Homo sapiens: one gene and its partners. The protein of the gene in region 4 purifies or fractionates together with the protein of the main gene of each other region. This does not show direct contact. Each region holds a gene or a part of one and is shown on either strand. Other genes may lie near its edges.

Region 1 (6,051 bases), on a different chromosome or scaffold from region 4:
TTTTATATTTTTGGTAGAGATGGGGTTTCACCATGTTGGCCAGGCTGGTCTCGAACTCCTGACCTCAGGTGATCCACCCACCTCAGCCTCCCAAAGCGCTGGGCCTACAGGTGTGAGCCGCAGCACCCAGCCTGCTTTTCTCGTGTTAATCTATATCTTGTTAGTCTAATTTACAGGGACCTAGCTGGACATCTAAAATGGGTACAGACAAAAGGTTTTTTTCTATCCCTAATGGAGAGAAATCCACCTCTGACCCCCACAGCAGAGGTGGGACTACTTACAAGCTGACACCATCTGGGGCTCGTGGGGAGCGGCCCTGTTCCACTGCAGGGATTGAATGTGGGGTATAAATTGTGCTTTACACAATTGCTGCCAGCCCACGCTAGCTACAAACACTGAACAATCTAGATGTCAACTTTTACATGGGAGCAGATAGCACAGACCGCAGGACCTATGAAGAGAATCAGCAGCCAAACTGAGCAAGTACCCATTGAAAAGGGGATCGTGTAGGAAACATACACCTCTGTAAATGCCAACTGTGTTTTTCAGGGAGACTTAAGAACACACTACAATGAGAAAACAAGAGCAGGCTGCCAAGAAAAAGCATCCTGAGAGCATTAAGCTCTTTTGGCAATTAAAAAAAAAAAGATTGCTGGGGGGAAAAAAACCCACAACAACTCTACAGGGGTAGCAGATAGAAGAATGGAGTCAGCGGCGAAAAGATGAGCTGGCGAGTTAGAAAAACAATTCGAGGAGCTCTCTGAGAATCTCGGGGAAAAAAGCAAAGCAACAGAATTAATGGGGAAAAAATTTAAAAGATGTAAAATATGTTCTTGGAGTTCCAATATCCATATAACAACAGTAGTAAAAATTTTAAAAATAAACAAATGGGCCGGGTGCAGTGGCTCACACCTGTAATCCCAGCACTTTGGGAGGCTGAGGCGGGTGGATCACGAGGTCAGGAGTTCGAGACCAGCCTGGCCAATATGGTGAAACGCCGTCTCTACTAATAATACAAAAATTAGCTGGGCATGGTGGTGCGCACCTGTAGTCCCAGCTACTCGGGAGGCTGAGGCAGGAAAATCACTTGAACCCAGGAGGTGGAGGTTGCAGTGAGCCGAGATCGTGCCATTGCACTCCAGCCTGGGTGAGAGTGAGACCCTGTCTCAAAAAATAAAAATAAAAAATAAAATAAACAAATGAAGGGCTATCAGTATATTAAAAAGTATGGCCAGGCACAGTGGCTCACGCCTATAATCCCAGCACTTTGGGAGGCCAAGGCGGGCAGATCACTTGAGGCCAGGAATTCAAGACCAGCCTGGCCAATATGGCAAAACCTTGTGTCTACTAAAAAGAAAATGCAAAAATTAGCCAGGTGTAGTGGCGCATTCCTGTAGTTCCAGCTACTTGGGAGGCTGAGGCATGAGAACTGCTTGAGCCTGGGAGGCAAAGGTTGCAATGAGCCAAGATCATGCCACTATATTCCAAGAGCAATACTCTATCTCAAAAAAAAAAAAAAAATTAAAAAGCAGAATACAATTTCCCTGAGATGAAGAGCTGAAGAAAGACTTGAGTTTTTCAGATCAACAATGGCGATAGAAGATTATTGAAAAAAGAAAAAATTATATAAAGATCTTTAGCAGGCTGGGCATGGGCTCAAGCCTGTAATCCCAGTGCTTTGGGCGGCTAAGGCAGGAGGATCACTTGAAGCCAGGAGTTTAGACCAGCCTGGGCAATATAGTGAGACCCTATCTCTACATAAAATTTTAAAAATTAGCCAGGCATGGTGGCAGGCACCTATAGTCCTAGCTACTCAGAGACTAAGGCTAGCAGACCTCTTGAGTCTAGGAGTTCGAGGTTACAGTGAGCTATGATCACACCACTGCACACCAGCCTGGGCAACAGAGCAAGAACTTATCTCTAAACAAACAAATAAACAAATGAAAACCATCCAACTATATTTATTAGCCAGGCACGGTGGCAGGTGCCTGTAGTCCTGGCTACTTGGGAGGTCAAGGTGGGAGGATTGCTTGAGCCCAGGAGTTTGAGGCTGCAGTGAACTCTGATTGCACCACTGCATTCCAACCTGGGTGACAGAGTGAGACCCCATCTCTAAAAAGTAAAATAAATAAAAATAAATAAAGATCCTTAACAAACAAAAACAGATTACTCACAGAGAAAAAATAGACCATTAGTGGACTTCTCATCTACAACACCAGAGACTAGAAATTTATGAAGCAAGGTTTATATATTCTGAGGTGAAAGCACTGTGATTATGACCTCAGAATTTTACACCTAGCTCAACTTTCCCTCACATGTGACAGCAAAAGAAGGACATACAAGTAAAGACACTTAAGGTCTCAGAAAGTAAACTCTGGAATAATTTTTTTAATTACTTGATGGAGTATTCCTGCCAAATGGAAAATTAATCACCTTAAATAATTCAAGAAAGGAGAAGAAAAGCTATAGGAAAACTTATCATGAGCAATGAAACCAATTAAAGTATAAGGTATGGCTAACAAGTGCGTTGTAATATGACCATGAAGCTTAATACCTGTTCAGAAAGGATGTTTACAAAAGAAAAAAAAATTAACAATTTGGTAGTAATCTGGAACTAAAAGTTCACATTATTTCAACTAAATCTGAAAGTGAGAAGGAAGAGGGAAGAAGAAAAACTATAAAAGTGTGCTAAATGTTTTATTTTCTCTGGAAGAATAGTTATATTCTACTCTTTGTGGTGATAGATGAGATAGGTTCTAGAGTGTGCATGTATGTGTGTGTTGGTGTGTGTATACACTTTTTTTTTCTGAGATGGAGTTTCACTCTTGTTGCCCAGGCTGGAGTGCAGTGGCACAATCTCAGCTCACTGCAACCTCCGCCTTCCAGTTTCAAGCAATTCTCCTACCTCAGCCTCCCGAGTAGCTGGGATTACAGGCGCCCGCCACCACGCCCGGCTAATTTTTGTATTTTTAATAGAGACGAGGTTTCACCATGTTGGTGAGGCTGGTATTGAACTCCTGACCTCATGATCCGCCTGCCTCAGCCTCCCAAAGTGCTGGGATTACAAGCGTGAGCCACTGCGCCTGGCCCACTTTTTTTCTTTTTTTAAGACAGAGTCTCATTGTGTCACCCAGGCTGGAGTGCAGTGGCGTGATCATGGCTCACTGCATCCTTGAACGGACAGGCTCAGGTGATCCTCTCTGAGGAATACCTCCACCTCCCGAATAGCTGGGACGAGAGGCATGTGCCACCATGTCCAGCTAATTTTGTATTTTTTTGTAGAGACGGGGTTTCACCATATTGCCCAGGCTGGCCTCAAACTCCTGGGCTCAAAATATCCACCGGCCTTGGCCTCCCAAAGTGTTGGGATTACAGGTGGAAGCCACCACATCTGGCCTATATATATGTTTTGATGGGGAAGTTACCACTCTGTAATTATCATTTAGAGAACTGGTGAAACAGAATGGAAGGAAAGGTAGAAAGTTTCGGCCAGACATGTTGGCTCACGCCTGTAATCCCAGCACTTTGGGAGGCTGAGGCGGGTGGATCACAAGGTCAGGAGATCAAGACCATCCTGGCCAACATAATGAAACCCCTTCTCTACTAAAAATACAAAAAAAAAAAAAAAACTTAGCCGGGCATGGTGGCACACGCCTGTAATCCCAGCTACTCAGGAGGCTGAGGCAGGAGAAACACTTGAACCCGGGAGGAGGAGGTTGCAGTGAGCCGAGATCATGCCACTGCACTCCAACCTGGATGACAGAGCAAGACTCCATCAAAAAAAAAAAAAAAAAAAGAAAAGAAAGAAAGGTAGAAAGTTTCAATAGCGTGGAGATACACACACACACACAAGCACTAGAACTTACATATATATGGATATATACATATAGATATATGCATATATACACATATATATTATATACATATATTTGTGTATGTATATATATGTGTGTACAACAAATACAACTTTTCAACTCTAAGGATTATTGCTAGGAATATGTGAGTCCAAGGAATATCCTAGGCCGCTAAGAAAATCTCAATATAGTCTTAGATGTAGAACTCATACAAACTGTATAAACTGGCCATAGTGCAGAAATTAACAAGTATGAAATCGCACCATCACATTCCAGCCTGGGTGACAGAACAAGAAACCAAACATCAAAACCACTTGAAAATTTTAGAAAACACTATTCTCTAAAACTTTTCAAGAGAAAAAAATTTCTTTTTTTTTTTTTTCGAGTCAGGGTCCGGTTCTGATGCTCTGGTTGGAGTGAAGTGGCACCATCACAGCTCACTGCAGGCTCAAATTCTTAGGTTCAAGCAACCCTCCTGCCTCAACCTCCCAAATAACTGGGACTACAAGCATGTACCACCGACCATGCCTGGCTAATTTTTTTTATTTTTTGTAAAGATGAGGTCTTGCTATGTTGCCCAGGCTGATCTCGAACTCTTGACCTTAAGCAAGAGAACCTTTTTAAGAAAAGACTGAAATGAAATTTGAGAAATGATTGACTATGAGAACACTAATGAAGTTATCAAAGTTATGGCATACAGCCAAAACCATATACAGAGAACTTATGCCTTAAAAGAGTTATTATTAGGCAGGGCATTGTAGCTCACGCCTGTAATCCCAGAACTTTGGGAGACTGAGGCGGGTGGATCACTTGAGGCCAGGAGTTCGAGACCAGCCTGGTCAACATGGGGAAACCCCGTCTCTACTAAAAATAAAAAAAATTAGCCAGGCATGGTGGTGGGCACCTGTAGTCTCAGCTACTGGGGAGGCTGAGGCAGGAGAATCACTTGAACCCAGGAGGCACAGGTTGCAGTGAGCCAAGATCTACCACTGCACTCCAGCCTGGGTGACAGAGGGAGATTCTCAAAAAAAAAAAAGTTATTATTATTAAACAATAAAGATTGCAAATAAATGAATTATAAGTTCAAGAAGCTAGAAAATGAATAATGACAAAAGTTAGAAGGAAGAAAATGACAAAAATAAAATGATCAAACAGAAAGAAGGAAAACATTAAAATCAGTAAGCAATCTAAGGAAAGACTAAAAGTACAGTACTTTGAAAAGACTGCTAAACCACAAATATACAACATCAGAAATAAAAAAAGGGGGTATAGTTACAGGCATATAGGAGATTTTTAAATAATGAAAGATAACTCAGGATGAACTGGAAAATCTTCCAAAAATCTGACACAAGAGCCAAAACAGATTAATGCCATGGCAAAAATGGGAAAAGTTCCCAAAAATCTACTATAAAAAAGGCACCAGTTCCAAGATGGTTTTTCAAAAAACTTTTATAAGCCTAAATTTCTTATATTCTTCAAATTGTTCTAGAGCAGAGAAATTATAATAGAATTTTAACATTCACTGAGTATTTAATATGTGCCAGGCACTACGCTAAACAATTTATATGTACAGTTGGCCCTCAGTATCTGCAGGTTACGCACCCGTGGATTCAACAAATCTTGGATCAAAAATATTCAGGCGAAAAAAAATCAATTAAAAAAGTACCACAATAAAAAAATATACAAATTCAAAAATATAGTAAAACAACTCTTTACATAGCATTTACATTGTATTAGGCATTATAAGTAATCTAGAGATGACTTAAAGTATACAGGAGGGGATGGGTACAGTGGCTCACACCTGTAATCCCAGCACTTTGAGAGGCCTAGGGAGGGTTGCTGCCTGAGCCCAAGAGTTCTCAAGACCAGTCTGGGCAATGTCGTGAAACCCTGTCTCTACAAAAAATTTAAAAATTAGCTGAGTGTGGTGGTGCACACCTGCAGTCCTGTATAATCTGGTGGCTGAGGTGGGAGGATTGTTTGAACCCAAGAGATTGAGGCTGCAGTGAGCCACGAGTGCAGCACTGCACTCCAGCCTGGGCGACAGAGCAAGACCCCGTCTCAAAAAATAAAAATAAAATAAAAAATAAAGTATACAGGAGGATGTGTAGAGGTTATATACAAATACTATGCCATTTTATATCAGAGACTTGAGCATCTATGAATTTGAAACAGACTCCCATGGATCCCGTGGGAT
Region 2 (6,051 bases), on a different chromosome or scaffold from region 4:
GAGAATCTTTTAAATAGCTCTTAGGAGTTTTTTTTTAATGTTATATTTAAAAGGATTTAAAGACAATTTGAGGGAATCTCTCAGTAAATTAAACAAAAAGACAAAGATGGAAAAACAGGAAAGTTTTTAAAAATCAGAGGCTCAGATATGGAGGCTGGGCAGTTAAAAGGAGATATTCTTTCTTTAATCAGAGTTTTATACCCAGGCAAATTATCAATCAGATTGACTTGAAGATTAACTAAACATTTTCGTGCAAGTTCTCAAAATAATTCTTATGTACTCATTCTCAGGAAGATACTTGATAATATGAATCATCAAAAATATAGTAAAACAAGAAAGAAGACATAAGATTCCAAAAATGGAATCTGACACAGAAGAAAAAGGCAACCCCCAGTACAGCAGCAGCAGCAGCTTGTGCAGTAGTCTGTAGCAGGAAGACATAGGACTCCCAAGGGAGAAAAATGCTTCAACAGTATTGAGAATCTCCTGTTGGAGATTGTGAGAATAACATAGAAATAGGTACCTAGAAAGATAAGCAACTGAAAATATAAGGTAATTACAGAGTCTTAGTAAAAACAAAAAGTTGTACAAAAAATGTCTTAGTACATTTTGTGGGTCTGCAGTGAACAATATTTAAATAATAATAATAATGATGTAAACAAACACCTGAGTACGAATGTAACTAAAAACTGTGATGCAATCAGGATATAACCTGAATATGCACTTAACCAAAAATTGTGATTTTCAGAATACTTAACCAGTACAAGACAAATACTGATCAGTTAGAATAGATACTGGCAATAAACAGTTATACCAGTACCTACCAACTAAAACAATCAATGCTTAATCAAAACTAAGTTAAAGGGATGGGGTGAATGGTGGTGGTGGTGGTTTTGTGTGTGTGTGTGTGTGTGTGTGTGTGTGTGCGCGCACGCACGAATGGAAGCAGGACGGGGTTGGAGAATCAGAATGTAAAAACCTAATCTCCTGATCTTCACTAGTAAGGATTATAGATGTATTGCAATTTTTAACAATCATTTTATTTAGAAATATGGAGGTAAACAGCAGAAGAAAAAGCTAGGTTTGAAAATAGTTCTTCCAAGGAATAAGTGCTTTTAACTATATCTACATTTATTACTTTGAAATTTTTGAAAACATTTGAAGGAGATTGTTTTTGTTATTGATTTGAAATTTTCACCATCCTGGGCTTCAACAGAAAGTTTAGATTCATCTTATAATTTTTGTATCTTAGGTATAATTTGAATGAACAGCTCCAGTGAGGTATATATATATATATATAGGTCATGTGGTTGACTTCCACTCTACCCAACCCATTCTCTAATTTCTGTAGCCATCCCCAGACTTAGATTTTTTCTCTATTTATTTTGGTATTTTTTAGTAGAGGTTCATGTCTTCTAAGCCAGTTAGCAATAAACATATACCCTTCTCCTGAAGATTCCTTTGAAGCAGCCAGGTGCTCACCAGAGAGTGGTCTACAGTTCAGAATTGCATTAGTGATAAAATTTTTTTTAAAGCCAGTTAAATATATTTTTTTTCTACTACAGGCCAATTATCCAAGAAGCATACTCACCTCCCTGCTCTTAAATAGCAGTCAGAGCTCTACTTCTGAGGAGACTGTGCTAAGATCAGATGCCCCTGATAGTACAGGAGATCAACCTGGACTTCACCAGGACAATTCCTCAAATGGAAAGTCTGAATGGTTGGATCCTTCCCAGAAGTCACCTCTTCATGTTGGAGAGACAAGGAAAGAGGATGACCCCAATGAGGACTGGTGTGCAGTTTGTCAAAACGGAGGGGAACTCCTCTGCTGTGAAAAGTGCCCCAAAGTATTCCATCTTTCTTGTCATGTGCCCACATTGACAAATTTTCCAAGGTAAGATAGTACTTCCCTTCCCACATTCTTTTACTGTAAACTTTTGAAGATTATTTTAACAGAAAGCCTTTGAAAAAACTTAAATGAAATTCCACTTGGCACAAGTGTATACTCCAAAATCCCAATGAATAGTCTAGGTTTTCCCATACCCTTCCGCTTATTCTTTGTGCTTCTTTCAAAAAACTAATCATTCAGCCTGAGCAACACAGGGAGACCCTGTCTGTCTGTACAAAATAAAAAATTAGCCGGGTATGGTAGTGCATGCCTGTAGTCCCAGCTACTCAGGAGGCTGAGGTGGGAGGATTGGTTGAGCCTGAGAGGTCAAGGCTGCAGTAAGCTGTGCTTGCACCACTGCACCCCAGACTGGGCAACAGAGCAAGACCCTCTCCCTAGTCATTACAAAAAGAAAAAAAAATAACAGGCCCTTTAAATTATCACAAGGGATCATCATAAGGAACAATGTCCCTATGCATAACAGCTACCACAGTTTATTATGTCTTTTTGCCAGGCATCGAACTGTATCTTTTACAAGTATTTCAAGTAAATTCTCATACCCTATGGGGATGATGATCATCATCATGACCAAGATGGTTAAGAGCCATTGGGTTGATCTCTCAGTTCTTGGAAGGCCATACTTTTGAAAATTTAATTTTATAAACTTAAGAGTAACAAGAATAGTACAAAGAGCTTTTCTAGTTCCTGAATCCTTTGGAGGAAAAAAATTCAATTATGCCCTAGATATGTGAGCCCTAGATTAAATTTGTTTAGGTGTTTCTTTTTTTTCAATATATGTATCTCACACCTTCTTAACTAGATTTTGATGTTTGTTAGGCCCTTGCATTATATTTCTGCTGTTTCCTCTCAGCATGGTGCAGTATACCTAGTGGTATGTGGTAAATGCTCAGTGATTAAAATTCATGCCAAATGAACAATTCTGTATCATAGATGTCATGGAGGAGGTGGGAAAGGGAAATAGTGAAGAGAGGAAATGATGCATTAGGAATTCAAAAGTACATTGTCCCCTAACAGTGGAGAGTGGATTTGCACTTTCTGCCGAGACTTATCTAAACCAGAAGTTGAATATGATTGTGATGCTCCCAGTCACAACTCAGAAAAAAAGAAAACTGAAGGCCTTGTTAAGTTAACACCTATAGATAAAAGGGTAAGTCTTTGGTAAGATGCATTATTGTATTGTAGTGCAATATTGTACTGTGGTACCTTTTGTCAAAGAGGTGTATATCCATCCAGATTTTATACTGATCCTTTTTATTTAAGAGTATTTTTTTTTGTTTACAAAGGTACATGAATCTTAAAGACTGTAACTTTCTTTAAATTAAAAAAATCACAGAATTAATGCATGTATTTTATAGAAGCTTATTGTACCTGAACAAGATGGAATATGTACCCTAGACTTTTAATCTACCTTAAGTAAATTTCTATTTTGTTTTATTTCCTACTATAGATAAGATTTTTCCTTAGAACTGCCACCAAGGAGCTGGGTTTTTTCTTTACTCTTCCTGGAAATAATTCCTTTTTTTTCACTGAATGGGACTAGACTTATGCATCAAAGCCAACTGATATATTTAACTGTAAATAACATTTAAAGCTACCAAGTCAACACTTTGTTACCAAAAAAACTCCTTTGCTAAATTATTAAGTAGAACAGTCAATATGAAAGTTGTCATGCAAGAGGGGACGTGCCCATTCACTGCCAGTACTACTCAGTGGTTACTGGGATAAACCCATAAAGCAGGGAAGTATATGAATAGCAGAGCACATGGTTGGACCTTCGGCATGCAGAAAGGTGCCTTAGGTCTGGATGCATATTGAGAAGGTCCACCTCCAGTTCTCCTAAGAGACGTACGTTCTTCCTTTATAGACTATTACTAATTTATAATACACAGACTGGAGCAATAAGTGCAAATTTATTGTTAGAAAACTTCAAATGGTTTTCTAGTGATTGTCTTAGTTCATTCAATTACAGGGCCTGTTCCCAAATATTGGGAAGGAGAGCAAAACTCCGAGAATCAGTAATTTTTTTGTATTCATCTGGGTTTTAATTTTTAGTCTGACACTTTGGGACCTCTGAGATTGTTATTTAAAATAAGCTGTGAATTCATTGTTTTATAATATTTTATCTCAGTTTTTATTTATTTTTGCTTAGAAGTGTGAGCGCCTACTTTTATTTCTTTACTGCCATGAAATGAGCCTGGCTTTTCAAGACCCTGTTCCTCTAACTGTAAGTATTAATGTCATTTTCTGCATGTTTACACAGTGGAATGCTTTTCTGGAATTTTATGAGAATCTAGCTTATATTACCATTTTTCAGTACTTTTTAATATCTAAACCTTAAATCTTAATAATACATACTGAATGCTTTGATCCTATGTAGGTACATTTTAGTAAGTGGCCCAAAACTTCTGTTCATTTCTCAGGTATTCTTTCTTCTTTCTTTTCTCATCTATTTTACTTACCACTGGGATGTTTAGGGTGATTTCTGTTAATTTTCTGTATTTCAGGAGTTTTAGGCATGTTTCCGAAGCTGTTGGAAAAAAAACTTTGAAATAAAGACATCTCTCCCTGCTACATTTTCCGTACTTATTTTTCTTTATAGGTCCAGACTTCAAGTAAATAAGTAGACGTTACCAATACAAAAAAAGTTGAGGAAGTATGTGCGCAGGTGCTATTGACTTCAGAAAGGTTCATATTGAAAGTTTGATGTGACTGTGGCCGGGCGCGGTGGCTCACGCCTATAATCCCAGCACTTTGGGAGGCCGAGGCGGGCGGATCACGAGGTCAGGAGATAGAGACCATCCTGGCTAACACGGTGAAACCCCGTCTCTACTAAAAATACAAAAAATTAGCCAGGTGTGGTGGCAGGCGCCTGTAGTCCCAGCTACTCGGGAGGCTGAGGCAGGAGAGTGGCGTGAACCTGGGAGGCGGAGCTTGCAGTGAGCCGAGATCATGCCACTGCACTCCAGCCTGGGCAAAAGAGCAAGACTCCGTCTCAAAAAAAAAAAAAAAAAAGTTTGATGTGACTTTAACGCATAATTTTAGAGTGCTGGAAAGGGCCTGGTACCCCAAAAGAGTATTCTTCTAATGTCTGAACCCCGGAGGCGGAGGTTGCAGTGAGCCGAGATTGCGCCATTGCTCTCCAGCCTGGGCAACAAGAGCAAAACTCTGTCCCAAAAAAAAAATTTTTTTTCATTTGTTCTACAGTTTGATAAATCTCAAATTAATACAAAGTTGAGAAGAAAATCAGCTTAGTAAATACAGTCAGCTTCTCTCTTAAGAACAGGTTTTGAGAACTTGATATAGGAAATAAATACCTCCAGGGAGAAGGGTCTTTTGTACCCAAAAGAGGCAGGGTAAAGAAGTCGAGAGGCTTGTAACAACATTACCAACTTGAAAATGTAACCTTGAATTGTACTTTTTATTATCCTGGCTTACAGTTACGTTATTAATACCAACAATGACAAAGTAGCCCCCTTTTTCTTAATAAATATCATCTCATTTAGTCTGTACAAAATGCTGTGAGTTTGGCAGGATTATCCCTATTTGAAATATGAAGAAACTGAGGTTAAGTAGCTTACCCAGGACCATGACACTGAGCAGCAGAGCTGGGGATTAAACCCAGATTCAAAGTCCTTCTTCCTCTTGTATAATACATGCAGCAAAAACATGTCAGATTCTACTAGAAATGATATTCTTCCTAGTAATTGCTTTTTGTTTAATAATGAAGAAAAAAATCTAGATGATTAAGAGGAAATATGTGAAGACAAGTTTTTTCATTAAAAATAATTGGGGCTGGGTGCAGTGGCTCACGCCTGTAATCCCAACATTTTGGGAGGCTGAGGCAGGCAGATTGCTTGAACCCAGGAGTTTGAGACCAGCCTGGGCAACATGGCAAAACCCCATCTCTACAAAAAATACAAAAATTAGCCGGCTATGTTAGCGCATGCCTGTAACCCCAGCTACGCGAGAGGCTGAGGTGAGAGGATCACTTAAGCCCAGGAGGCAAAGTTTGCAGTGAGCCGAGATTGTGTCACTGCACTCCAGCCTGGGTGACAGAGCAAGACCCTGTCTCAAAAATAATAATTGGTTAAACTTTTGGAAAAAGTCACACAAACCTTTACCAGTGTGTGTGGAAGGCAGTG
Region 3 (6,051 bases), on a different chromosome or scaffold from region 4:
TTGTCCCCACCACCCCACCCCCCACCCGCTAAAATACTTCTGTTTTAAGACACATTGATATTGAACCTGAAATCTTTATGTACATCAGAGCAGGTTATGACCAAGAACCCCTAATGTTAAGTCAAAAGACAGAAGAGGAATCAGGTCAAACTGAGAATACATAAGACACCAGCAGCAGAAGATAGGTAGAAGTTGACTTCATGTCCTTGCCTTCTTTTGAAACAGAAGAATGAGTACACCTAGACAGGAGGGAGGTGTCCCAGGCTTGGTTTATTCTGCCTCTTCTCCTCCACCCTGTGGAGAAATGCAGTGCTCCCTGGTTCTCAGGCAGGGTGAAGCAGTTTAGCCCCGGCTCCCTGTTAAGCAAGTTCAGATGCTGGGTCAGTGTGGGGGTGAGCCCATCGACAATTCAGGGGCTTATCCTTCATCCAGATCCTAACTCGGGATTCTTTGATCTGGGATGAAGACAGAAAGAGAGAAAAGCTTCCCAGTTTACTCATTTTGGTATTTGTTGGCCCTGCATGGGGGAGCTGAGCCCATGATACTATTCAGTACATTCCCCCTAAGATTCTCCCCACTCAGAACAAATTTTAAAAACCACATAAATTTTTTTTTTTTTCCTGCAGAAACCAACGGGATAGGATTCAAAACTAGGTGACAAACTCATGAGAAATCCAACCTGGCTGAATGTCTGAGAGGCTGCTACTGTATCAACATCACAAGATAAAGCACTCTGGTATCACCTGCCCATATCCTCCTTAGTGTCACCCAAGACATTTGACTCTGATGTGGTTAATTGATAACTTTTCTTGCTCCACTTTACAATGTTTTGTTTCCTACATCTTATTACCTTGGGACACAAAAGTGGCAGAGTTGTTGAGAGCTGATGACAATAAAAAGGAGAACACTAGAGGAAATGAGACAGGAAAGAAAGCCAAAGCTGATTTTCCAACTCTATGCTGACTCCAACCTGCAGAAAAAGCTGAATATAGAAATCTTCTTCCATATATGATGAAGTCACTCCACTTACGACATAACACACAAAGGAATCACCTGGCTTTTTTTTTTTAACCCAGAAGAGTTGTGCTGGGGACCATGCCCCATCCCGCTGATACAGATCCTGAATGGAATAATCAGGAATGGCACAGTGCAGGTGTCAATATCAAAGTAAGGCCGCAGAATTTTTGAGAGGACCCTCCAAATACTGAGAACTTCTGTTGCACTCGAAACAGTCTCCTGGATTTCTATATTTTTATGTGAAGGGCTCTTATTGATGTCCCCCAGAATCCAGACTCAGACCTATTTCTCCAAAAAGGTCCAATTGGGTTGCTACATAGTAGCAAGGGTTTATCTTCATGCTCACCTAGCATTCCAGGCCCCCATTACTTCAAAAGTGAGCTTGAAATTGTTTTAAGTGAACTATGGCTGCGGATTTTTTACTGTTTTATCTCAGGGAGCATACAGTGGAGTGATTAAAGTTTGGACTCCTTCTCCTTGTGATGAAGAGAAACAGTGAGTCCAGCTCTTAGGAATGGCATCAGTTCTCCTGCAAACAAAATGCTGGGATGCAGACTTTTGGCACATTGTGGAAGTAGGAGAACTATTAATCCTGTAATGGTTTTCATGCCACTGGGTCAGGAAGGCTGTCCTACACTAAACCTTACTGCATCTGAAAACATGTTTACATCCCAACAAGCCACCTTAGCTTTTTTTTTTTTTTTTGAAAGGAAAATGAGATTACAAGTCAATACCTCCACAGAGAGGTAACTCCTAATATTCCTATGATCTCTGAACCCTATTTAAACCCTCCTAAAATAAAAATATCATTTTGGTTTTTCTATTATATTTAACTCTAAAGGCGGGCTCTGACTAATTTGCTTGGGCTTGATGCTACAGTATTAGCACAAGCTATAAGCTCCCTACCACCATATAAGCCTTGCTCTTCGGCCTTCCATCATTTTGAACCCTAAACCTCATAGATTTAGAACGAAACACTGTATAAAAACAAACAGATAAAGGGTTAAAATATTACAAATAAATAGCTAAAATAATCTTCCCTCCCCCAGTCACTCCTAAGAAACAGACACCAAACATTACTTAAGTGTCCAAAATGACCAAAGTCCTTCATTTGCCCATGACTCAAACGGACAACTACCTCAAACAAAGTTGAACAACCTTCATGCAAATGCATCAAGGAATGTATTGCTTTTTCATTTTCTGCCCAGCCCTTCATATACATGCACTAAAATGAGTTTAAAACATGGCCTAAAAATGGAAAAAGGGAGAAGAAAATATATATGAATATTTCCCACAAAACTGTTTCCCTCCCTTCCCTCTCCCTACACCCCTCCCACCCCCCTCCCTTTCTTAAGCAAGTATTTTAACTTTCTTTCTGGCACAGGAACAAAGAAGACTTCCTGGTAACCAGAATCAAACCCTGTGGTTTCTTTAATAGGGTCTGGATATGCCTTTCTAATTCACCCAGCTTGATGTCAAAGCCATGCCATTTAGGATTCTTAACCAAATCAGACCTGTCTGACTCACCCCTTATGGTGGTTTGCCTATAAACTTATCAATAGTTTTTTTTCCTCTGGCCCTGTTTCTTTTAGGAAATAAGGTTCCTAATTCCCAATCAGGGCCACATCCATAAGATCATCATCTTCCTCCCCAATCATAAAGTCTGGGCTGAGCCTTGAGGGTCTGTCTGCAGATAAGATTGTGTTACTTGTCATAGACAAGGACTGGTCTGAAGAGATGGGTGATTTGGACCAACTCTCTGGCTTGATGCTATGAGATTTTTTCTTGTCTCGGTCTTTGTCCCGGTCTCGGTCCCTATCTTTGTCTTTTACTTTCTTCTTTTCCTTTTTGTGCTTCTTATGTTTCTCTGTGCTGTATTCTGGAAGTGGTCGGATACCATCGTCTGAGCTGGGACTATTCTGATAAGATTTCTCTGCTATGGAGGAGCCTGACTCACTTTCACTGTCCAGATTCTGGGGGGTATATGCTGGTGACTTACTATGGCTGGGAGAGCCACGCTCATGCTTTGGAGTGGAACCACTGATGAGTGGAGAGCCATAGTTTTTAGAAGAAGCCATTTGAGGCCTAAGCCCTTCTCCACTACTTTCCCCAGGTTTCTGCAAAGTCACTTTGGCTTTAATGCTAGGGGAGCCTCCATCATGCTTACTGATGATAATTTTTGCCACACCTGTGCTCCCCACATTTTTTGACTCTGAGGTCTTCTTAGAAGAATCCACTGAACTCCCGGAGGTGGAAACCTTTGATTTGTCTTTATCACTTTTCTCACGCTTGCCCTGAAACTCTCCTCCTGACATGTTATGTTTGGAGGACATAGGATGGCTGGAAGAATTTGTGCTCACCCCCATCTGGCCGTCCAGTGGGTCTTCACCCCCAGGGCCACTGGTGACAACCCCATGCTTCAGTTTATCTATGACAGCTGTCAAGGACGGCTTCTTGTTTCTGCTGGGAGATTTTCCTTTAGAACTCCCATGCTGGTTCTGAGAGGATGACATGGAAGAGCCACTTGAGGAAAAGGAGGAGGAAGATGCCGTACAGGAATTAGATGATGGGGGAGTTTTCTGGGACAACGAGCCTGAGGATCCTAACCCTGAAGATGACTTCATGCCAGAGCTTGAACTAGTTCCAGACATATGAGAACCACCAGAACCTGAACTGATAGGGGACTTGGCTTTAGAGGATGGAGGAGTTCCAGGAACAGGCTTCATTGGAGAGGCAAGCTTGTCAGAGCCTCCAGGTGGCCTTGAATGAGAAGGGGATATGTTTGGTTTACTTAAAGAAGGATTCATAAGTGATGATGGCTTTCCTTGAGGTTTCATCTTGGTGCTGCTAGAGCCACTGCTCAGTCCATGCTTGGTTATGGGAGAGGAGCCTGGCTTCCCCCCAGACTGGGATGAATTTTTGGACTGGCTAGATCCAGAAGACCCCTGGCTAGAATACATACTGCTACTTAACTTGGAACTTGATGAACCTTCTGATTTACTGCTTTTCATCTTCCCTGAGGTGGAAGCAGATGAGGAAGAGGAGGAAGAATGGCTATGGTGGCTTTTGCTGCCTGAGGAAGACACAGAACCACTGCTGGTATACTGACTGTGAGAGGAAGGCTTGCCCACCATCACTGTTCCCTTAGGAATCTGAATAGTGATTTTGGGAATGGGTGGTGTGGCAACACCTGGGGGAGTCTGAGATCTTCCTGCACTGCCTGGCGATTTAGATCCACCTGTACTGGTAGGTGGGGTAAAAGGTCTGTTAGAAGAACTATGAGATGGAGACTTTCCCTCAGTGTCTGCCTTCTTCCGCTTTGGAGGCTTATCTTTGCTTTTCCCATCATTAGAAGGGGTCCGACTGCGCTTCCCTGGTTTGCTGTCTAATCCGGGCCCCGAGAGAGTACTATTACTGGTGCCATTGCCTTCCTTTACCCTCTTTTGAGTCTTTTCTTTCCCTAAGTCCCCAGTGGTCAGTAAAGGACCCTGACTACCACTGTGATGCTCCATAAGATCTGCAGGAGCTAAAGCTTTGCCGGCTACTGAAATAATACTGAAATCAACTGTGTCGGCTTGGTTATTGCCCTTAAACTTGGTCTCCCCATTATCACCTCCAAGCATTGGCACCCCCAAAGTATTTAGTGCCTGAGATGCAAATCCTTTGAAATCATCATTATCCCCACTTTGGCTGCTTTCATCAAAATATTCTTCTCCAAAACCACTTTGGCTCTGGCTGTTCAATAAATCAGGATTGAAATCTACTCCATCATGAAAAAAATGATTGGTAGGAGAGTCACTACTGGGGCTTCCAGCAGCATCTGCAATAAGATCAGCTGGATCAGTGTATGGATTTTCATTATTGTTAGTTTGAAAGACATCAGAGTCAAACAGGGTACTCTGAGAATGCCCAGAGCTTGAAGAATCTCGAAGAGGGGTGCCAATGGCTGGGCAATCATCACTAGTGCTGGGAAGTTTAGAAGCTTCTTCTGCAATGTCTGAAAGGATGTCAGTTACATCTGGGCCAATGCTGTCTGAACTGGATAGTCGGACCATCCTTTGAATACTGGGTTGGGGGTGAGGTACTGGTTGTGGGTAAGTTGTTGGGGGAGTGCTACACTGGCTTGGAGCTGGAGTGATGTGTGGCGTATCCAGCGTGTCAGCTGTCATGTTGACATCAAAGATAGGGTTCTGTGAGTCAACATCCATTGAAAATAGCTCCCTCTGAAAGTCATCTTCAGTCTGGTGCTTTGGTTTCTCAGGTGGTAATCTTGATGACTTCTTTTTCTTGGTCTTGTTGCTCCCCGAGCATATTTCCATGCGGGGTGAGCCGGAAGAGGAGTTCTGCCTTTCTAAAGGGCTGCTTCCATAAAGGGTTGAGAAATCCTGGGCAGGATTATCTTTAAGAAGGTTCATGAGCATCGGGTGGTTCTTGGTGTTGCCGGCCATCGAAGAGACAGGTGGCGGCGTGTGATGAGGAGGGGTCGGACTCGAGCCAATGGTAGACCCCCCGTTCCCTGTGATTTGCAACAAACTGGTAAGAATTGGGTTCTGAGACACCTTGCTGAAGTCCTCCCCATGGCCCACCGACTCATGCCGATCTTTGATGCTCATGCTCATATTAAACAAGGTGGTAATGGGACCCCCCGGAAAGGTGTTGGTTGGTGTAGTGGTACCACTCATTGGGTTGTTGCCTGTGGTCATGCCATACCCTGGGCTGCTAGCCGGGGGCAGGTTCTTTTTCACCATGTCTTCAACTGTCTCTGCAATGAGGGACAGTGCTGGGGTGTCGGCTTGAATGGTTTCAGCTTTCCTCCGAATAGCCCTCATCGTCACAGGGATGGACATACATCTGCAAAATAAAGAAGAAAACAAAGTTAACATTGCAATAGCTGCTGAATGAGACCTGAGATTTAGATATAACATCAGAGTTTTGCAGTAAGCAGTTTTCAGGTAGGGCAAATAATCTGTAAGACAAAAATAGTTCTATCAAATACCAGAGCTTTGGGTAAATACATTCTAAAAATCTAACCCA
Region 4 (5,568 bases):
TTTTTTGTTTTTTGTTTTGTTTTTTTGGGTTTTTTTTGAGATGGAGTCTCGCTCTGTCGCCCAAGCTGGAGTGCAGTGGCGCAATCTCGGCTCGCTGCAACCTCTGCCTCCCAGGTTGAAGCGATTCTCCTGCCTCAGCCTCCCAAATAGCTGGGACTACAGGCACATGCCACGATGCCCAGCTAATTTTTGTATTTTTAGTAGAGACGGGGTTTCACCATGATGGCCAGGATGGTCTCGATCTCATGACCTGGTGATCCGCCCACCTCGGCCTCCCAAAGTGCTGGAATTACAGGCATGAGACACTGCACCAGGCCTAAGTCAGGAATTTGAAACCAGCCTGGCCAATATGGTGAAACCCCATCTCTACTAAAAATAAAAAATTAGCTGGGCATGGTGGCGGGCACCTTAATCCCAGCTACTCAGGAGGCGGAGGCATGAGAATCACTTGAATCTGGGAGGCGGAGGTTGTAGCGAGCCAAGATTGCACCACTGCCCTCCAGCCTGGGTGACAGAGCAAGACTCAATTTCAGGGAAAAAAAAAAAAAGGAAAGAAAGGAATAAGAGAGGGAGGGAGGAAGGAAGGAAGGAAAAGAAAAAAATATCCTGGTGTGGTGGTGTGTACCTATAGTTCCAGCTACTCAGGAGGTTGAGGCAGGAGGATCCCTTGAGCCCAGGAGTGTGAGGTTACATTGAACTATGATGCACTCCAGCCTAGGCAACACTAGGCAACAGAGTAAGACTCTATCTCAAAAAACAGAACAAACAAATAAACAAAAAAAAATAAACAAAAAAACCAACCTGGGCAACATGGCAAAACCCCATCTCTACAAAAAAAATAAATAAATAAATAAACAAAAATTAGCTGGACATGGTGGTCTGGACCTGTAGTCCCTGCTACTCAGGAGGCTGAAGTGGAGGATTGCTTGAGCCCAGGAGGCAGAGGTTGCAATGAGCAGAGATCTAGCCTAGGTGACAGAGCAAGAACTTGTGTCAGAAAAAAAAGAAAAAGAAAAAGAAAAAGAAAACCACAAAAGATAACGCCAGGGATCAAGTCAAGGGCATGTTTGGTTTGGTTTGGAAAGAGACTCTCTAGAAGGGACAGAAAAGGGTCAAGGGTGGCCCAAAACTGACTGCTGACCCCTCCTACATTCAGGAGTCTGTGACAGCCACCCCAACACGTGACGTCATGGCCAGTAGGGAAGATGAGCTGAGGAACTGTGTGGTATGTGGGGACCAAGCCACAGGCTACCACTTTAATGCGCTGACTTGTGAGGGCTGCAAGGGTTTCTTCAGGTGAGAGTCTCCTCCCCAATGGAAATAGCCCTCCAAACCAAACTCCCTATTAGTCAGCCTTTACACCCTCGCTGGTGCCCAAGCCTGTCCAGCTACATTACTCCTTTATCTTAGAGTCTAACTACCCTGTGGCTGGCATCCTACATCTTGCCAAACACATCACTGTATAAACTGGTGGCATAACAGAGGGAAAGCTGAATGTTTGTCTGATGGACACAGCCCATTAGTCAAGAGCATTTATTATGTACCCACTGCCTGTGAAGCACCTAGCTAGTACTACATCAACTAGGCTTTCTGGAGTGATCCTGTGTTGCCATGGAAATGCTTGAGATGTGTTGGATACTATCCACCCCTGGGGACCTTTGGGCACAGCTCAGATTAGTCCATTTCACCAGATTCCCAGGTCTTTTAGACCATGTCATCTCAGCCCCTCACCTATCCATTGCATCCCAGACTCTAACAACATCTCTGTGTCTCACAGGAGAACAGTCAGCAAAAGCATTGGTCCCACCTGCCCCTTTGCTGGAAGCTGTGAAGTCAGCAAGACTCAGAGGCGCCACTGCCCAGCCTGCAGGTTGCAGAAGTGCTTAGATGCTGGCATGAGGAAAGACAGTGAGTTGGCCCCCTACATCTCAAGAATCCATTGACTGCGTCTGTCTTTGTCCTTGTTCCCAACAGTGCATTCTCTACATAGCAGGCACAGTACTCTTTTTGAAACTAGTTGGATTATGTCACTATTCACTCAAGACATCCAATGGCTCCCCATCTCAAAGTACGTGATCTCATGATCTAGCTCTCCCACAACACCTTTCAGACTTTATTTCATACTCTTCCCCCTTTACTCAACCAATTCTAGCCACACTGACTTCACTGTCATTCTTAGAAACACCAGGCCGGGCGCGGTGGCTCACGCCTGTAATCCCAGCACTTTGGGAGGCCGAGGCAGGCGGATCACGAGGTCAGGAGATCGAGACCATTCTGGCTAACACAGTGAAACCCCGTCTCTACTAAAAAAATACAAAAAAAATTAGCCGGCCGTAGTGGCGGGCGCCTGTAGTCCCAGCTACTCGGGAGGCTGAGGCAGGAGAATGGCGTGAACCCGGGAGGCGGAGCTTGCAGTGAGCCGAGATCGCGCCACTGCACTCCAGCCTGGGTGACAGAGCCAGATTCCGACTCAAAAAAAAAAAAAAAAAAAAAAAAAACACCAAGCGCACTCTTCCCCAAGGCTTTTCCACTTGCCATTTCCTCTACCTGAAATGCTTTTCTCCTAGATAGCCACATGGCTAGTCTTGTCTTTTCTTTTCTTTCTATTTTTTTTGATAGAGTCTCATACTCTGTTGCCCAGGCTGGAGTGCAGTGGCGCCATCTCGGCTCACTGCAACCTCCGCCTCCTGCGTTCAAGTGATTCTCCTGCCTCAGCCTCCTGCATAGCTGGGATTACAGGCATGTGCCACCACACCCAGCTAATTTTTTGTATTTTTAGTAGAGATGAGCTTTCACCATGTTGACCACGCTGGTCTCAAACTCCTGGCCTCAGGCGATCTGCCCACCTCCGCCTCCCAAAGTGCTCAGATTACAGGTGTGTTTTTTATTTTCTATCTGTTGAGTATAGTGCCTGTCACCTAGTAGGTGCTCAATAACTTAATTAATGCTTTCTCTGTGCCAGGTAACTGTGCTATGCTCCCAAAGGAGGATGTAACTGGGGCTCACGGAAGTTAATTTGCCCAAGTTAATTCAACTAAAAACTTGTGCAGGCCGAGCACGGTGGCTCACACCTCTAATCCCAGCACTTTGGAAGGCTGAGACAAGAGGATTGTTGAGGTCAGGAATTCAAGACCAGCCTGGTCAACAGAGTGAGATGTCCTCTCTAGGAAAAGAAGAAGGAAGAAGAAGTTGTACAGTCAGTATTCAAACTCAAGTTTACCTGACTCCCAAACTCTTGCTTTTTCCATATCACACGATTCTCACTATGGAAGAATGAAAGGAAACTGTAGAAGTCAAAGGATCTTGGTCTGAATTCAAGATCTTGGTTTGATCTTGGATCTTTTGCAGAAGTCAAAAGATTTTGGTTTGAATTCAATCTATATTACTTATTTTGTGACCTTGGTTCTGTCACCAGAATCTAAGCCTGTCCACATTTCTAAAAAATGTGATTGGGCTGGGTGCAGTGGCTCACGCCTGTAATCCCAGCACTTTGGGAGGCCGAGGTGAGTGGATCACTTGAGGTCAGGAGTTCGAGACCAGCCTGGCCAACATGGTGAAACCCCGTCTCTACTAAAAATACAAAAAAAAAAAAAAATTAGCAGGGCGTGATGGTGGGTGCCTGTAATCCCAGCTAGTCAGGAGGCTGAGGCAGGGAGAATTGCTTGAACCCAGGGGGCAGAGGTTGCAGTGAGCCGAGATTGCTCCATTGCACTCCAGCCTGGGCGACAGAGTGACAGACTCCATCTCAAAACAAAACAAAACAAACAAAAAAATATATATATACACATATATATACACATATATACACATATATACATGTATACACATATATATACATATATACACATATATATACACACACATATACACACACACACACACACACACACACACACACACACACACACACACACACATATATATATGATGAATACCAGCCCTGCCTATCCTGGGGTTGTTTCATTCAGTGGGATTTAACCTCAGAAGTTTTGAAATTTTGCTAAAACATCAGATAAAGGTTTATTTGAAAGGATTATTTGATTATTTTTGAAGGATTATTTGAAAACATCATATAAAGTGATGTTCTAGGTATGAAGACCCCTCCCTCTACACTGTTTCCCCAAAAGCCCTCGCACCTTTCCTCACATCTTTCATACTTTCCTCGCCACCCTTCCCTTCTCCCCCACAGTGCAGTTTTCTGCTGCAGTTCTTCACAGGTTGGTGGAAGTGTATAGGAGCCCCCTGCCTCCTGGAGCCTCTAGGACTTTAGCCAAGCCCAAGAAAGTCTCAGGAATTCCCCCCACTGCCCCCATCCTTCGTTGTGCAGGGCAGCTGAGGGGCCCCAGATCAGGGACCAGCAGAGAGAAATGCTCTGCTGGTCTCAACAGCTTTGTCATGATCTCTTGCCTGGCACAGTGATACTGTCGGCAGAAGCCCTGGCATTGCGGCGAGCAAAGCAGGCCCAGCGGCGGGCACAGCAAACACCTGTGCAACTGAGTAAGGAGCAAGAAGAGCTGATCCGGACACTCCTGGGGGCCCACACCCGCCACATGGGCACCATGTTTGAACAGTTTGTGCAGTTTAGGGTGAGCACCGACAGGATTTGGGTTGGAATACAACTAAAAGGGCACCCAAAAATGCTGGTCTGAAGGAGAGGGGTGTATGCCATGCACTGATACTGAGAACAGATCTCCAGAACCCCAGCCTGAGCAGGCTTCTCAGCAAGGAACTCTTCCAAGATAAGGCTGGCGAGGCCTAAAGGAGGGCCCTAGGGCCAGAGCCTCTAGCTAATGTTCTGATCATTGCAGCCTCCAGCTCATCTGTTCATCCATCACCAGCCCTTGCCCACCCTGGCCCCTGTGCTGCCTCTGGTCACACACTTCGCAGACATCAACACTTTCATGGTACTGCAAGTCATCAAGTTTACTAAGGACCTGCCCGTCTTCCGGTGAGTGACCTCCCCTCATCTTTCAGGAGGCAAACACTTCAGTAAATTGTATATCCACCCCGAAAAGTCACTGACTACAAATTATCACATGCGTCAGCCTTTCCAAGCATTAGGTCTTGAATTCCCAGCTTTGGTTTTAAATGTGCCAATCAGAACTGGGAGTTCTTCTCCATCTCTGAAGTACAGGCTTGCATCTAAAGTGCCCTTGAGGTGCCGCGCAGTGGCTCACACTAGTAATCCCAGCACTTTGGGAGGCGGAGGCTGGCAGATCGCTTGAGTCCAGAAGTTTGAGACCAGCCTCAGCAACATGACAAAACCCCAACTCTACAAAAAATACAAAAATTAGCTGGGCATGATGGTGGGTGCCTGTAGTCCCAGGTACTCAGGAAGCTGAAGTGGGAGGATCACTTGAGCCCAGGAGGTTGAGGCTGCAGTGAGCTCAGATAGCACCGCTGCATTCCAGCCTGGGTGACAGAGTGAGACTCTGTCTCAAAAAATGAAAGCTAAAAATAATAATAATAGGCCAGGCACGGTGGCTCATGCCTGTAATCCCAGCACTTTGAGAGGCCAAGGTGGGTGGATCACTTGAGCTCAGGAATTTGAGACCAGCCTGGCCAACA
Region 5 (6,051 bases), on a different chromosome or scaffold from region 4:
GTACTACTCTATCTACAATTACTCTACAGTTTATTTCATCCAGATCCACAGCTTTTCATAATAACTCACACACAAAATTTTTCTATCTCCAGACCCAATCATTCCTCTGAATTTAAAACATATTATCTCCAAATGTGTATCTGATTTACTCCCCCGTGTTTCCCTCCTCTGTAGTTAGTACTACCATTCACCCAGGTGCTCAAGCTATTATTGATGCCTCATCTTTCCTTACACGTCTTTTGGCAAACCCTGTAGGTTCTATTTCCCAAATAACCTAAAACCTATTACTTACATCTCGCTGGCCTCTTATCTTGTCTAAGCTACCATCATCTTTCACCTAAGCTACTGAAACTGCCTTCCAACTGATTTATCCTGCTTCTGTTCTCACTTTCACTACTTCCAAACCCCAACGCTATTTTCCACACAATAGCAACAGAGTGTCTTGCTCTGTTGCCCAGGCTGGAGTGCAGTGGCATTATCTCAGCTCAACACAACCTCCGCCCCCCAGGTTCAAGCAACTCCTCTGCCTTGGCCTCCTGAGCAGCTGGGACCACAGGCACGCCCCACCATGCTGGCTAATTTTTGTATTTTTCACCATATTGGGCAGGCTGGTCTCAAACTCCTGGCCTCATGATCTGCCCACCTCAGTCTCCCAAAGTGCTGGGATTAGACGCATGAGCCACCGCACCCAGCCATTTTTTTTTTCTTTTAGATGGGAGTTTCACTCCTGTTGCCCAGGCTGGAGTGCAGTAGTGCGATCTTGGCTCACTGCAACTTCCGCCTCCCAGGTTCAAGTAATTATCCTGCCTTAGCCTCCCGAGTAGCTGGGATTATAGGCGCCCACCACCAAGCCCAGCTAATTTTAAATTTTTAGTAAAGACGGGATTTCACTATGTTGGTCAGGCAGGTCTCGAACTCCTGACCTCAGGTGACCTGCCTACCTCAGCCTCCCAAAGTGCTGGGATTACAGGCATGAGCCACTGTGCCAGACTGAGAGATCTCTTAAAAAACAATCAGAATAAGGATCATGTTACTTTCCTTGTCAAAACTGTTCAATAGCTTCCCATCACATTTAGTATAAACCACAAAGGCCTTACATGGTCTATAAGACTCTAAATGATGCTGGTGAATGGCTACCTCCTAAATTTCATCTCCTTCCAGTCTCCCTATCACACAAAGCATTCCAGCAGCATCAGTCACCTTAATGTTCCTCAAACATGTAAAAGCAAAATACTCCCTCAGGGTCTTTGCACTGCCTGAAACACTCTTCCCTCATTTAACTACATAGCTCATATTCTATGTTATGTAGGAGTTTTCCCATATGCTATCTCCTCAGTAGTATCTTATCTGACCATACATCTAAAATAGTACATATGTGGTGTCTTGTTCTGTTTTACTCTGCTTTTCCTCCAAATTACTTCTTACTATCTATTATATGCTTTTTTGTTTATTTCCTATTTTCTCCACTAAATTATAGATTCAAAAAGGGCAAAGAATATGTGTGCTTTGTTCAACAGTGAATCTAGGCTAATACCTGGCACATACAAGGTGCCCAGTAAATACTTAATGAGTGAAAGAATGTTGAATAAAGCAGACCACTAGCAATGTTATGCTAATAAATATATGGAATGTGCCTTTCATATTCCTACATAAGTATATAATTACAGATTTATAATAACCATACTTTTATTGGTGAAATTAAACTAAACTGCTAAGAAATTCTCCCTTTAAAAACATCATCCATAAAGAGTTTTAAGTCCAACTTTAAATGTATTTGCCACATGGGAAACTGCCTTTATTACTTTTTCCTAAGAATGTAACTAAAGGGAAATAAGCAAACAAAAAAGTATTTTATTGGCATACTTTACCGTTTCTTTTGGACCAGGGGTGTAAGCATGAACTTTTCACAAGTGCTTCATCAACTTTTCCTCCTGACATGTTATCCATGAACTGACGCCCATGTTCTAATGCAAGGTAGCAGTCATTGCAACAGTCACGCTCTTCAACACGTACCCAATTGCTAATTACACCACTTTTAGGAAAAGGATCTTGGTCTGCTGCTCCAAAGGGTGAAAATAAATTAGTGCACTGATCTTGTAGCAATAATATCAAATCATCAGATAATTTTTCAGATTCCTTTAGTCCTCCATTAACATGTTCAGCAGAGGTAGCCCTGAGAGCTTCAAAACGTTTTTCTGCTTCTTTGCCACAGTCTGTATTGCGTCCTATGATATCTAGTTCATCTTCAAGAAATAATCCTGAATTGTTTCCAAATTTTCTGTTCATGACAGCACTGAAGCCACAGGTACACCTATATTGTGCTTCCTGCGTTGGATCTGGAATGTAAACTCCAACATCGGCACCCTTGATGTTCATGTTGCAAACACAGATGCAACAACTATCAAAGTTACAGTCTTTAAACAAATTCATAACTGATTCTGAAAGGATGAGGTTTACATAAAGACTGTGTGCTTCAGGGATGGAAGGGACAGTTGCAGGTTCAACAGAATTAAGGGGTCTGCATGTAGATGGGGTAGAAGCTGGTGAATACAAGTCTGAATTTTCATATTTGACTGAACCTTGAGCACTAGCAGGTCCACCAGCTCCACGAGGAGTCCGAGGAGTCCTTGGAGTCCTTGGAGTTGGAAACCGAGGGGTGGATGGAGAAGGAAGAATTCCTGCTCCGCTGTTACTAGGAGGTGCACTGCTAGGAGGCATCCCAAAAGAAGTATGAGTTTGAGGTGTATAAGCAGTGCCATATTCTTGATCCATATTACTTCCATCACTATCATCACCAGGGTAAAAGAAGATCAAATATATATATAAAGGAACATATTAGTAATGTGAAATACAACTAAAAACGTCCCAAATGTTTTTCAATTACATAGAAAATTATGAAAGGACAAGTATTGCAAGAATTACAAGCACAGTCAATTCTTATTTCTGGTTAACATATCTACTCTAAGTGATTGTTGTTGACTAAGGATCAATTAACAAGTTCAAAAATCATTAATAAGCACTCTATACACTAATGCATACCTAGACATCCATATTTACTATCTATAAATTTTGTTTACTAGAAATACTTATATTTCCTTGATTCTAAGATGCTACTGACTATAAAAAAAGAAAAATGATTTTAGAGATGCTCATGTGTAAAAAGGGAAAAATGGTAATTTTAAAATGCTACCACTTATAAGACATCTCAGATTCAGATTTCTTTTAGCCTTGAGTTGAAACTGACCAAGTCAGAGATGTTAAAATGTGAAAAGTGTGGAAAAGATGGCAAATGTAAAAATGGGAGCAATTTAAAATTGCAGCCCAAAAGAAAAGGTGCTTCGGAATACAAATCAAGCATAATAGTCTTAAGTTTCCTAATAGTTTATCCATACCCAATTAACCTTTTTTTTTTTTTTTTTGAGACAAAGTCTCACTCTTGCCCAGGCTGGAGTGCACTGGTGCGATCTCGGCTCCCTGCAATGCCTGACTCCCAGGTTCAAGCCATTCTTGTGCCTCAGCCTCCCAAGTAGCTGGGACTACAAGCATGCGCCACCACGCTTGGCTAATTTTTGTATTTTTAGTAGAGACGAGGTTTCGTATGTTGGCCAGGCTGATCTCAAACTCCTGACCTCAAGGGATACGCCTGCCTTGGCCTCCCAAAGTATGGGAATTACAGGCGTGATTCACTGCTCCCAGCCAATCACTATAATTGATTAACCAGAAATAATTTTTAGAATTTTCAAAAACCAATTTTATTTTTCCAGCATACCAGGTAAATCTATGAAAAAAAAATTAAAGCTGTATAAGCAGTCACATACTATTGTAACAACATAAATCATACCCCTCTTTGATGAATGGCATTGAAGGCCCTGAAGAAAGCAATTCCAATTTTCCAACAGTCCAACTCTGACGGTAAATACACTCTTCTGGCAATTTGATAGGGGGCAGATATTGGCTTGGTAGAGTTTTTAGAGGTGCAAACATGGAACATCCCACTAGAATTTGACAATTTTCAGGCTTATAGACATAAGAAAAATCCTACAATATAAAGATGGTAGGTTTTCAGTATCTTATCTTCTAGGAGGAAAAAATAAATAAACAAACAGGCTCTGGACCTTTTTTCCTTTCTTTAAACAGAATAAAATCTAAATACAATTCTATTATTTTCTTAAATGCATTCTTAATAGTGACAACAATAATTCAGTCCTCAACTTAGCTACAAAACCGCAACCACTATAAAATAATTTTTGACTATAGCAACAAATTAATTCTATAAGAAAATATAGGAAGTGAATTATTTTTCTAGAAAAAACATACTTACTTTAATTTCAGAAGGTTTGGGGCTACAGAATCCCTCATCAACCTCAATTTTGAACTGCGCTCCTATACTAGAACTATTTCCTTCTAGAACAGTTCCTCCAGGTGTTGTATCCATACTACCATATTCTTTATTATTCATATTCATTGGGGAAAATCCCATAATATGTTGTTCCAATGATGGTGGTGTAGGATACATTTTATGAAGATCTGCAGTGCCTATATTTAATAAAAACATACATTTTAACATGACTAAAAATAGGCGAATCTGTGTTTAAACCAAAAGGAGTGGGGAGCTTTGTTGAGATTAAAAGTTCGCAAATTTATCTCGAGCACAGATGAGGGAAGCTTACTTATGCAAGATAACGGGTCCAGATTTCCTGTCTTTGATTCCTTGCAGCTGGCTTTATCATCTGATCCATTTGCTGATTTTTTAGATCCAGGCTATTTAAAAAAAGCACATATTTATCTAAAATTTTACATCCAATGTGATCTCAAAATAGTAATCATTCAGATATAACTTAACAGTAAAGCCCATTCATTAAAAGTAGTATTTTGAATCTGTGATACAGCCAAATACATACTAGTGTTGAAAGATATAAAATATTTCTTAATCACTGACTCCAGATTAATTTATTTGGTAAGCCTCCAAATTAAAAGGAAAAAGTTCCTCCAAAGAAAATGACCAATACTTTCAAAATACACAGAAGTAAGGTTAACCTTAACTTAAAACCCAGTAATAAGAGGCCGGACATGGTAGCTCACACCTGTAATCCCAGCACTTTGGGAGGCTGAGGCAGGCAGATCAATTTGAGGCCAGGAGTTTGAGACCAGCCTGGCCAACATGGTGAAACCTCATCTCTACTAAAAATACAAAAAATTAGCTGGGTGGGGCATGCCTGTAATTCCAGCTACTCGGGAGGCTGAGGCACAAGAATTGCTTGAGCCTGGGAGGCAGAGGTTGCAGTGAGCCAGGACTGCACCACTGCACTCCAGCATGGGCAATACAATGAGACTCTTGTCTTAAAATAAATAAAAATAAGAAAACCTGCAATAAGAAGGGGTTGTAATTAACATTAGAAATGCTTCTTGGTAAAAGATACTTGCAGAGAAAGCATTTGTCTCCTTAAGTTGAACACATTAAAGTTTCCTATATAATCAATCACTCACCTATCTAAATTCTTATTTATACTTTCACCTTGTTTTAATAGTCTCCCTATTCCTGCAAAAATACTGTTAACAGGTAAAACTAAGTACAAACTTCAGAAGATCTAATGACAAAGCAATAGAGTTCCTAACTTTTAGTAGATTGAACAAACAAGTTTTACTATCTCCAAGCTCTTACCAGTGTTTTCAGAGCTAACATTTGTTCCATGTCTTCTGTTAGACAGTCTGTGATAAATATTAATATGTAGACCACGTTCTGACTACAATCTTTTATTTCAGAGGAACCACAGCTGATACAGGAATGGTAGTAGAGAGAAAGTATGAATGTGCCAAAGCATTCAAGGATATAGTTGCCTAGTAAAGGGTGCCCTAAAATGTACTACATTATGGGATACACAGTAAAAGTTTATGTATCTGCAATATATATATATGTATATGTACACACACACATATACACACATATAGAGATATATATGTTGAGAGAGGACTAAATGCATATTATATAGGAAAGGAAAGATCAAATGTACCATAGAAGTTTCCAAGCTACCTTTATGCAGATGAAAAGGA

What was found.
Region 1: the proteins of NR1I3 (region 4) and PML purify together in Homo sapiens (affinity purification with western blotting; one study listed by BioGRID). This does not show direct contact.
Region 2: the proteins of NR1I3 (region 4) and TRIM24 purify together in Homo sapiens (affinity purification with western blotting; one study listed by BioGRID). This does not show direct contact.
Region 3: the proteins of NR1I3 (region 4) and MED1 purify together in Homo sapiens (affinity purification with mass spectrometry; 3 studies listed by BioGRID and IntAct, with this or other methods). This does not show direct contact.
Region 5: the proteins of NR1I3 (region 4) and MED13 purify together in Homo sapiens (affinity purification with mass spectrometry; 3 studies listed by BioGRID and IntAct, with this or other methods). This does not show direct contact.

The regions. Positions count from the first base shown.
Region 1 is NC_000015.10:74,000,190-74,006,240, reverse strand, and holds part of PML (protein PML), read right to left. Parts: intron 1-6,051.
Region 2 is NC_000007.14:138,577,639-138,583,689, forward strand, and holds part of TRIM24 (transcription intermediary factor 1-alpha), read left to right. Parts: intron 1-1,565; coding exon 1,566-1,894; intron 1,895-2,923; coding exon 2,924-3,056; intron 3,057-4,058; coding exon 4,059-4,133; intron 4,134-6,051. UniProt on the Homo sapiens protein: Transcriptional coactivator that interacts with numerous nuclear receptors and coactivators and modulates the transcription of target genes.
Region 3 is NC_000017.11:39,404,854-39,410,904, forward strand, and holds part of MED1 (mediator of RNA polymerase II transcription subunit 1), read right to left. Parts: intron 5,869-6,051; coding exon 2,622-5,868; 3' UTR 357-2,621; coding exon of another isoform or gene 146-356; 3' UTR 1-145. UniProt on the Homo sapiens protein: Component of the Mediator complex, a coactivator involved in the regulated transcription of nearly all RNA polymerase II-dependent genes.
Region 4 is NC_000001.11:161,232,187-161,237,754, reverse strand, and holds part of NR1I3 (nuclear receptor subfamily 1 group I member 3), read left to right. Parts: intron 1-1,156; 5' UTR 1,157-1,189; coding exon 1,190-1,296; intron 1,297-1,777; coding exon 1,778-1,908; intron 1,909-4,416; coding exon 4,417-4,586; intron 4,587-4,808; coding exon 4,809-4,948; intron 4,949-5,568. UniProt on the Homo sapiens protein: Binds and transactivates the retinoic acid response elements that control expression of the retinoic acid receptor beta 2 and alcohol dehydrogenase 3 genes.
Region 5 is NC_000017.11:61,980,330-61,986,380, forward strand, and holds part of MED13 (mediator of RNA polymerase II transcription subunit 13), read right to left. Parts: intron 4,762-6,051; coding exon 4,671-4,761; intron 4,537-4,670; coding exon 4,322-4,536; intron 4,039-4,321; coding exon 3,842-4,038; intron 2,786-3,841; coding exon 1,869-2,785; intron 1-1,868. UniProt on the Homo sapiens protein: Component of the Mediator complex, a coactivator involved in the regulated transcription of nearly all RNA polymerase II-dependent genes.